2 separate regions of the Homo sapiens genome follow, and region 1 is linked to region 2. The links come from fine-mapping of genetic effects on gene expression. Tissue or cell type: whole blood. Region 2 holds a variant in brackets; the other region holds the start of a gene. All regions are shown on one strand. Distances are between the middles of the regions.

What was found. PIP is the estimated chance that this variant, and not a neighbour inherited with it, causes the effect.
Region 1: TXNDC16 starts here. The variant in region 2 is fine-mapped to the expression of TXNDC16 in whole blood (TOPMed, PIP above 0.99).

Annotation. Positions count from the first base shown.
Region 1 is chr14:52,550,067-52,555,567 of GRCh38, forward strand. It overlaps TXNDC16 (thioredoxin domain containing 16), which reads right to left and starts at 2,439. Exons shown (of 21, transcript NM_020784.3): 1 at 2,250-2,439. GPR137C (G protein-coupled receptor 137C) reads left to right here and starts at 2,770. Exons shown (of 7, transcript NM_001099652.2): 1 at 2,770-3,525. The coding sequence starts at 3,082. RefSeq lists silencers at 2,960-3,029, 3,040-3,239.
Region 2 is chr14:52,470,265-52,475,765 of GRCh38, forward strand. It overlaps TXNDC16 (thioredoxin domain containing 16), which reads right to left. Exons shown (of 21, transcript NM_020784.3): 15 at 248-416. Among named protein-coding and RNA genes, the nearest start is that of TXNDC16, 79 kb to the right of the region's middle. The variant C/T (reference allele first, on the strand shown) is at 2,658.

The DNA of each region.
Region 1 (5,501 bases), 80 kb after region 2:
TAGGAAACCCTTGGTTAGTTCCCCCTTTATAGGCCTAATATTCCCTTATGATTAACCATAAAATTAATGGCTTTTCCTCTCAGAAAAGAAGGAAATTAACAACTGTAACTATTAAATAAATTGTAGCAACATCTGTGGCCATCATACTCAGGAAAAAGACACACTTCATATTTTGCAACAAATGGAGTATATAACGCTTACAAAGTTCCCATAAGAACATTCTGTCTGAAGTCAGCTTACTTACAGTTTAATGCTGCTACTGGAGAACAGAACCTGCTCACTGAACCAGCCTCAAATAAAATGTTGATCAGATCTCAACACAGTTTATCATTTCAGACCCAAGGAGGCAATAAAAGGAGTCAACATCTCTCCCCTTTAGAGCCTTTTCAAAGCAGTTGGGAGGAAAATCCTCTACCTGCACCCTCACCGCCCACCTCTAAACACACACTCCCATCCCCCAAAAAAGAGAAAGGAGGCAGCTATCCAGACTTGCTCTTACTGACACATGGCAGGTGGCAGGTAAGCCTCACAGGCCAAGACCTAAAATTAGTATGGGTACTATCCAGATGTTTACTATCACTTTGAGCAGAGAATAGAGGAGAAAAAGAAAAACCTTTTAAAGTCTATTGATGACTTGAAATGTGCACCTCAATGATTATGGAAGATGCAAATAGGCCATGGCAGAGAATATGTGGCGCCCTTGATTTTGACAAGTGCCTAAAATCACACAACTCTGATTTTATGCTCAATTTAAATACTTAAGCACATTACTGCAATCAATTACATCACTGCTGTCATGAGCATCCTGTCTCCTATTTGAAGAGAATTGTGTACCGCCCTGACCACATTCTCTAAAAATACATGAGATGAACTTCTTAGGTTCCAATAAACATAAAATCCTTCTCCAAAGCATAGATGTTGGATTAGGCCTGTTAACTTCTTAGAGCAAGCCGTACCCTCTCATACACTGCACTCTCTACCTGCTCAGCTGAACGTTTCATCTGAGGGATGTCTAGGTAACAGTGCTAGGCCTGTACATCTACCACAGTTTGTCAGCATACCTATAAAGAACTCAAACCACACTAGCATCTGGTACCTGGACAAACGACTGTCCCAGAATCTACAAAATAGACTTTAAAGTTCCCTGTGGAATACTTAGCTAGGAAAAAAGACAGCAACACTCTTCTTGGGCAAAGCATATGACAAAGGCCAGCCTGGACAATATAGTGAAACCTCGTCTCTACCAAAAAAAAAAAAAAAATCAGCCGGGCATGGTGGCTCCAGTGCCTGTAGTCCCAGCTACTTGGGAGGCTGAGGTGGGAGGACTGCTTGTGCCCAGGAGGTGGAGGTTTGTAGTGAACTGTCACTACAGCCTGGGCGACAGAGCGAGACCCTGCATGAAAAAAAGGAAAAAAAAAAAAAAAAGCATAGGACAAAGGATGGTGAGGTAAGAAAAGCTGGGTCTTTGTTGCTCCAATAAACGTAGCAATGTCTTTCACAAGGATACTGAATTCGTAATGTGCTGTGTATTCTAAAGAAAACAAATTATTTCCTTTTAATTTTGCACTACTTGCTAATCTTATTTCCAAATAGGAAAAAAAAAAGTCAACAACTATGTGCCGGCCCAATATACGTTAGTCGATCTGATTATTCCTCGGTTCTTCACAGCAGTAACACAGCATGTATTTTCTCTCTCAGGCCCAGGAATAGCGCCACCATCTACCATACACAGGTCCAAGGCTTCGATACATGTGGAATTTAAACAGTACAGAATATTCTACTTCCTCTCCAGGCAATCATCATACTTACAAGTCTGTTTCTGCCTTTTTCCCAAAACTTAAGCCCAGAGCATCTTCCCAAATTCTACGTTTGAAAGAACCAGCTTCCCCCTGCTCACAGATCGCTTCAACATCCATCTGATACTACTACTACTCTTCCTTAAGAGACATTTCCCTTGGCCTTGGGAGGAAAGGGTCTTTCACTTAAGAGCTCCGATTCTCCCCGTCGCCCCTTTCCATCCCCTCGACCCACAAAGGGCTCCGGTGTTTCCCGCCGTTCATGCAGCGAAAAGAGAAAGCAAAATGCCCTCAGGAGGCTCCAGGTGAGGCCCTTCGGTGCCCCAGAGACGGGTGTCTTAAGTCAGACTCCGGAGCTGTGCAGTGCAGCCCTGGCTACAGAAAGCTGCTTCGTCTGAATCCCCGGGTCTGCAGGCAGAGCCCACAGCCTGAAGGGCCAGCGCTGTCACCTACCTGCCCGGGACCTGCGGGCGGGGACCTGGGCCGTTCCCGAGGCCGCGCGGCCAACAGTTCCCGCCGCCACGCGACGGAGGAGGAGGCAGAAGACGGGGCCGTGCCAGACTAGCCGGGTAGCCTGGAACCACTTCGCCAACCTGCAAAGGCGTAGCACTTCTCCCTCCCAGCCTGCAGCCGCCACCGACTCGGCGGAGTCGGCCTCCTGGGAAAAAACAACCTGCGAAGCTCCTCCTTCTCCTCGTGCTCCCTACGCGAGGCACTCTCTAACCAATGGGAAACGTGGTGGGCGGAGCGAGAGTGACAGACGATTACAGAGTCCTCCCGCCGGCGCGAACGGGCGGTGCAGTAGCAGGGCCAATCAGCAGCGTGGGTGGGAAGTACAGGGGCGGGAGAAAGTAGGGAAATTACGCGCCCAATCAGATCTCGGGGCCCTCGAGCGACGGGTCCTGCGGCCCGTGGCCTTCCGAGCGCGGCGCTCAGGGGGCGTGCCTGCCTGGGCCAATCGGCGCGAGCCCACAGTGCGGAGCGAGCGCCTCAAATGCTCGGGTTTCTCAGCTGATTGTCTCCAGCCGAGAGTTGTTTTTTGCAGCTACGGAGCCGAGCCGCAGCAGGAGGAGCCGAGACCCCCGGGGGGTGGGGGGAAAGAGGAGGCGGGGTCCGGGGGAGCCGCGGCTGCTTTGCGCTGGACTCCGGGTCCCGTCACGGCGCTTCCTGGGGTTAGAGGCTGGGGTGGGTGGGGGGTAAGGGGGCAGTCCTTCTCCCCTTCGACGGCGGCTCCGAGTCCAGCCCCTTCCTTCCCGCGCTCGCTCGCCCGGCCCCCAGCCCCCTCATGAGGGTGTCCGTGCCGGGTCCGGCGGCCGCTGCCGCCCCCGCAGCCGGCCGCGAGCCCTCCACGCCCGGCGGGGGCAGCGGAGGCGGAGGCGCCGTCGCTGCAGCCTCAGGCGCCGCGGTGCCGGGCTCCGTGCAGTTGGCGCTGAGCGTCCTGCACGCCCTGCTCTACGCCGCGCTGTTCGCCTTTGCCTACCTGCAGCTGTGGCGGCTGCTCCTGTACCGCGAGCGGCGGCTGAGTTACCAGAGCCTCTGCCTCTTCCTCTGTCTCCTGTGGGCAGCGCTCAGGACCACCCTCTTCTCCGCCGCCTTCTCGCTCAGCGGCTCCCTGCCCTTGCTCCGGCCGCCCGCTCACCTGCACTTCTTCCCCCACTGGCTGCTCTACTGCTTCCCCTCCTGTCTCCAGTTCTCCACGCTCTGTCTCCTCAACCTCTACCTGGCGGAGGTAAGGCGGGAGGGCCGGCATGCGGGGCCCGGGCGGGTGCGCGGGGCCGCCGGGATCAACTCCCGCTGAGGACCAGCGGGGGCGGGGGGTGGGCAGCGAGAGGCGGACTGGAAACCAGCCTGGGGAAACTGAGGCACACCTGGAGTGTGAGCCAGTGTTTTCGCCTTAAACTTAAGTGGCTGATTGGCTTGATTACTGAGGGGTTCGGGCTAGGGGGTGAGTGAGTGAGTGTGTGTGTCTGACAACTTAAAACAGCAACGGAACGAACCCTTTGTTCGGTGTTCTGGCCCTCCGAGGTAAGGCGTTGGTGGCACCAACAAAGTGGCATCGCAAGAAGTAGCAGCCCCGGTGGCTCTGCCGAAGCCGGACTGTGTTGAGGGAGGTTGGATGCTGAGGTAGCAGCAGCTCTGCTGAAGCTGGACTGCTGCCAGCCATTACGTCACCAGGCAGAGCTGTTCCTCTGCTATTGTTGCTGCGTTTCTTTTATTAGAAGCTTATATTCCCTCCTGCATCTCCTTTCCTGTGGCTCGATAAGCCTCACATAAATTTCGTTCGATAGTTCCCCAGCAGGGTTGATGATCAATAACCAATGCTGAGGATCAGGATAAGGACCTCCATAAAGCCCTTAATGTTTGCCCCAGTTGCTTCGTGCTTTAGCGGTTTATCCTACCTCCTATTAGCATAGTCTTTTTTGGAGCTAATTAAGAGAAAAAAATACTAGCTTAACCTGTGCCTATTGCAGAAACAAAACCACCAAACTGTTTTTGCAATAACTTGCTTAATATCTGGAACCTAATCACACCCCCTTTCTCTTTTATGGGGAATTGCTGGTTGGATTGCATTGTTCTGCAGCGCTTAGGTATTTGACCCATTTCAAACAGGTTTGGGAGTGTAAGGTTGTCAATCATGTGTGTCAGCTTGTGGTATTTAAGCCATAATATTTTAAGACTTTCCCCCAAAAAAGTCCTCCTTCCCACCAAAAGAAAAGCTTGAGGAGGGGAGGAAGCAAGGTGACATCATATGCTTAATACAGACTAATATAGAATAATATTGGCCTATGCAGCTAATCCTCTCAAAGGCTTTTTTGGAGGTGATGGAATTAATGTAGTTCCAAGCAAAAGTAAAAAAAAAAAAAATGACGTATATTAAGTGTTTATATTTCCTGCATAAACCAACTCTTTTCTCCTTTAATAGGAAGTAGAATGCATAATTTTATAATCAGTCATAATGTCAGCTATTTAGCACACTAAAAACAATAGTTGAAAACAACAAAACTAATTTAACTTTTATTATTTTCCTTCTCCATCCTTTGAAAGTCCAAACAATACAATGACAAAAACGCAAACCAGTAAGCGGAAATAAGAAGCATAGGTTATCACAAATCAAATGATGCCATAGTCGTGTCACTTATTTGAGGGTGTTCTAATCTAGTTGTCGTTTAAGCTGTTATAACACTTCTACCCTTTATACTTAAACTGATACATTGTAATCTTCCTGCCACCATTTCAGATAGTGCGTTAGTGACTTCTCAACGCTGAAGCTTTTACTCCAGGTTCAGATGTTTACCTGAAAGTGACTAGCGATTTTTATGCCAGGGGCATCAGATGACTTGTTTTTTCCCTATATATTTTGATTTACAAAATAATATGAATGATTCACTGTAAAATAGTTGGTAGGCATTTCATAAAGTGGGTAAACACTCTTTTTACTTCTTGAGGTATAACATATACAATAAAGTCCACAATCTTAAATGCACACCTAGATGAAATTTTATATCTGTATACACCCATGTTACCACCACCCAGATTAAGATATAAAGCATTTTCCGTGTCCCAGAAGTTTCCCTTTTTACCCTCTCCCAGTCAGTAGCTCCCCCAGGTAAGCACAAAGTGGGTAAACACTATCCAAAAAAGGAGATATATTTAAGCTCAAAATTCTGAAGGTATGCTTATATAGCATAGAATACACGGAGTATC
Region 2 (5,501 bases):
TTACATAGGATAATATCTTACAAAATATAGAAAATTAAATATTATTCTTAAAGAAAATCAGACTCATTAAACAAAATTGCTATCTCCCGAAAAGTGTTGAAATGTACACAGACTTTCATAAATATTCATTTTGTGATCTCAATTCTAGTATCTTCCTTAACCTATTTTAAGTGTTAGCAAAGTCTGAGAATTAGAACTTCTAAAGACCTAAACATTCAGAGATCTTATAATGAAGCTGAATACTTACAGCTGGATAAATTTTAGGAGATCTTCGGTTCCTAACATTCCAGCATAAGATACTGGGTTCTCGCCTTTCTTGTACATCTTTATGATAGGAAATTCAGTAACATTTTGCTTAGTACATACATCAGACCAATCTGCACAGTTTATTCTAGTAAGAAGCATAGTAGATGTGCCTAAATAAAAGGAAAATGCACATTTGTAATTACTAATTGTAGAAAATGCATTTGCTTAGGATCTTCAGTATTTTTCTATCCCATTCTTATTTTAACCTCTCAGCATGAAACACTCCTGCTTAAACACTCTCTTCCCTTGATCTTTGCAACACCATTCCCTGTTGGCCTTTTCCCTTCCTTTCTAGCTTCTCCTTTTTGTTCCCTTTTGCAGGCTCTTCAGCCAGTAGAGTTGGAGGTCCCTCAAGGCTCAGCTTAAGCTGCCTTCTCTTGTTTTTCTTCACTCCTGTCCTACACAACCTCAATAACCATAGACAATCTAATGAATCCTAAATTTATGTCTTTGGCCCAAACTCCTTGAAGTTCCAGACCCATATATCCTTACTACCTTCTCTGTTTTCCTTTGAACGGAAACCTCCTCAAACTCAACAAGTCTAAAACCATATATGGTTTCTTTTCTGTTTGTTGGTGAACGTTGCTGCTCTTGTGCAACTCAAAAAACAAAGCATCATCTTTCATACCTCTCCATTCCCAAGGCCCTTCATGCCTATTGATTAATCAGCATGTTCTTTCAATTTTACCACCTGAATTTTTAATATATCTAATTACTGTCCATTTCTCTTTACTGCCACTACTCAAGTTGTCGTTCCTCCTGGATAACTACAATAGGCTTCTAATTCGCCTCTTTGAATTCAGTGTGTCTACACTAATGCTAGAGATATCTTTTCAAAACTCAAATATTTTGGTACCAGCTTACCCCCACCAACCTTTTGCAGAATTAAATCTTTCTTACCGTGTACAACTTCAAGGACTAGCCTTCTCTGACACAGTGATCTACATCAGGTTCCCTTGACATATGCTATTATAGAACCATGCTCTTTTCCTTATCTCCTTATGTAATTATATACTATTCATTATCTGATCAACGTCTGTCTCTACCAAGACAACTCCTTGAGAGCAGGGACTATGTCTGTTTATTTATCATTGATTTTCCAGCACCTGCAGTACCTTAAATATGCATGTGAATAAATGACACATGTGAAACTCATCCAGGACTTCAGATACCTATCCTGTCTAAACATTATAATTTCTTTTCAGCCTAAGAAAACACACAGTAGAATCTCAAGCAGAAATTCCTACTTGCTCTATAATAAAACGTGTAAAGTTCTCTAAAATATTATAAATCACTGTGTGGAAAGAGATCAAACACTAAATAAAATAAGCACCATACAACTCGAAAGAATAAATTCTAATAAAAGATAAAATTTAGTATCATACTAGATCAAAGAAGGAATCTTTGTGTATCAATTTAGGATATAGCCTAAATGTTACTTCATCATATGATTAAAATTGTGAATGTGGTATTTTAATATTTTATCACCAAATGTTTTTAATACTGAAATTAATTTGTATATTTTCAAAGATTCTTGATTACTTCTCATAGATGTAATAACTTATCACTTTAGATTTAGTGTTAACAATCTGATAATATAGGCAAGATTTAGTCTGTCTTTTTTTTTTTTGCTTTTGTATATTTGAGATGTAGTCTTGCTCTTGTTGCCCAGGCTGGAGTGCAGTGGCGTGATCTCGGCTCACTGCAACCTTCCTCTCCCGAGTTCAGGCGATTCTCCTGCCTCAGCCTCCCGAGTAGCTGGGACGACAGGCACGTGACACCATGCCCGGCTAATTTTTTCTATCTTTAGTAGAGACAGGGTTTCACCATGTTAGCCCTAGGATGGTCCTGATCTGACCTCGTGATCTGCCTGCCTCAGCCTTCCAAAGTGCTGGGATCACAGGCGTGAGCCACCGCGCCCGGCCTTAAGTCTGTCTTATCACCACTATATCCCACTGCCTTGCACAATGTCTGTTACACAGTATGTACCCAGTAAAAATGTGTAGAATGTACACTGATATTTCTTCACAAATTTTAAATTCTTACATTAAAGGATATTAATACTTGAATTTTGTATGAGCATATAAACAAATATAAACCCTTATTTCTTCCCAAATCAGACCTGCTAAGTGACTTCCTATCAAAGTTCTCTTATCCTTTATTTTAATCATTTTGATATAGGAGTGAAGAAGAAATCACTTAGGCAGATAGCAAGGGTATGGGGAGTCCTCGGTAAGGTTTTTCTTTTTAGTGAAAAGCAGCCCCAAATCTTTTTCTAACAAAGAGCAGCCTGCAAGCTGCAAGGGTGCACGTACCGGCAGGAACTAAGGACTAGACGTTTCCAAGATGGC[C/T]GCTCTGTCTTCCCTTCTCTGCCAGCCATGTGTGCTGTAAGGAGCAGACAAGATGGCCCCAGACAACTGGAAAGACCATTTGTATAAGAAGATTAAGGTGGGGCGACCAGACTTCCCTATGCCACTATGTAAATATCATACCTGACTGAAGCAATCTATGAGCCCTATGTAAATCAGACACCACCTTCTCAAACTAGACTATAAAACTCGACACATTCGCTGCCAGCCAGTCCTTTCCACTTGGAGATGCCTTCCTCTATAGAGGAAGCTGTTTCTCTTTCTCTCCTCTCTATTGAACCTCTGCTCCTAAACAACTTGTGTGTGTCCGTGTTCTAAATTTTCCTGGTGCGCGACAACGAACCCCAGGGTATATACCCCAGACAACGCTGCTGCTTTGATTTCATCAATAAACATCTGGTGATGCTTGTTTATACAAAGTGCCACGTTACATATTTTGCCACCCAAGTATGGAATATAGTGCTCTTCCAGCTGCAGTTCTTTCCTTTCAATAAGCATCCTCAGCATGTCTACTACTGCTAAAACTGTGATTATTCCTTTTTCCCTACAGTTGAAATGGAAAACTTTGATGTTATCTTTAAAACCAGAAAAGTAATACTGATATATATCACTAAAAGTTATATAACTACTTATACTGAAGTTATCAATTCCTGTAAAATGGTTCCAATATTTACTCATGTTTCAGTTGGAATAGTCTAGTATTCTAAGGTGCCTACAGTATTACATCCCATATACTTTATCAATGCAGTAATTTCAAATAGGTTCCTAACTTAAAAGAAAAAACAGATTATCTTAGATACAGGTATTATGTAAGTATAAAATTTTGACATTTGCTGCCACCTTGTGACAGAGTAAAAAACATTCTTCATTGTCTTCGACTAAGAGATAACAAATGGCTTTTTCCCACAAAGTCAGATCTGTCAGAAAGACAGATGATAGGACTAAATGCCCAAGGTATTATATTTTCCTAACTTATAAAGTTATAGTATAGGCTTCAACATAGACACAAAACATTGTAATTACCTATGCAATGCATTTCTACATTAAGTTCCCTGAACTTCCAAAATAGTCCATTTATCTGATATCTGATTACCAAAAAAAATTGTTATTCATAAAGAACATAGTGAATGAAAAGGAAAACAAGTCCTGGGTTGCTTAACTACTTTTTTATTCTACAAACACATACAACTCTGAGCCCTTGCATTGAGGGGGCAGGTAGTCTCTTCATTTGGTCATTAATAGAAAAGAATGCAAGGAAATATTTTTCCATTTTCATCTGGTGTCTAATTAAATGGGGTGGAGAGAGGGATAATTAATCATATTCTTGAGGAACATTATCCAATCACTACTTCATTATGATTTATATTTTCTCCTCCTTTGCTTTTCTTCTAATTATTTGCCAATAAGGCTAGAGAATCTAAAAGAAGAAAACTTAAATTTGTCCATAGATTGCAACTTGCCTTGCATAAAGGAAAATGTGAAAGCAAGTAAGAGGATCTGCTTTTTAAAAAAATGATTAGAGGCTGGGCGCAGTGGCTCATGCCTATATTCCCAGCACTGTGGGAGGCTGAGGCAGGTGGATTACCTGAGGTCAGCAGTTTGAGACCAGCCTGGACGCTGTCTCTACTAAAAATACAAAAACTAGCCAAGCACGGTGGTGCACACCTGTAATCCTAGCTACTCGGGAGGCTGAGGCAGGAGAATCACTTGAACCCAGGAGGCGGAGGTTGCAGTGAGCTGAGATCATGCCATTGCACTCCAGCCTGGGCGACAAGAGTGAAACTCCATCTCAAAAAAAAAAAAAAATTACAGATCACAGTGTCTACAGACTTCATTATCCCCTCACTCAGTAATAATCAAAAGTTAGATCAAATGTGGTTGGGAAATAAAAGGAACGGGGACAGACAGAACAGCGTGTGGAGGCTCGCCTCATGAACTTTTGCTCCAAAACTGCAGCAATACATTAGGAAAGCCAAAAGAACCCACAGACCCTCTGAAGGAAGTGATTGCACCTGCAGGACCTGGGAGACACCCCAAATACTGTGAGTGCTCAAACTGTGGAAGTGGGAAAGGCAGATCGTCCACCCCTGAACACACACCCCACCACCGGGGAACCTAAAGGTCTAGATTACGGGAGAAGATTCTGACCTTATCTGGAGCTTAGTCAATTTAGAGAGCTGAGCGAAAGCGAAATACACGGGTAAAGGAAGCAGCAGGAAAATCCCTGTGGACTAGCTGGGTCCCCTACCAAGCCATTTGTGCCTCACCTCACAAGGGGTCCTTGAGGAGGGCTACCAGAGGCACTCAGAGAAGGCCACAGAGAAAAGGAAACCTCCCCCTGAAATTTGTAACAATTTGAACCAATCGAAGAGTCTCCTGGCCAGAACTCGGGGGAGGGCATGAATCCAGCGTGCAGACTCCACAGGCTGGGGAAGAAAGAAAGCCCTACTTATTTTTGCAGCTGGGAGGCAGGTAGCCTGGGGCAGGTTCTCAGCCCTGGTCACCCACTGCCTGGAAACAGACTTGGTGCTGTTGAGTGGGGGCACAGTGGAAGTGAGACTGGCCCTTTGGGTTGTGTGGGAGCTGGGTGAGGCCTGTGACTGCCGGCTTTCCTCCACTTCCCTGACAACCTGCATGACACAGCAAAGACAGCCATAATCCTCTTAGGAACATAACTCCATTGACCTGGGACCCTCACCCTCATCCCCCACAGCAGACGCAGCAAGACCTGCCCAAGTAGAATCTGAGCTCAGACACGCCTAGCCCTGCCCCCATCTAATGGTCCTTCACTACCCACCCTGGTAACTGAAGACAAAGGGCATATAC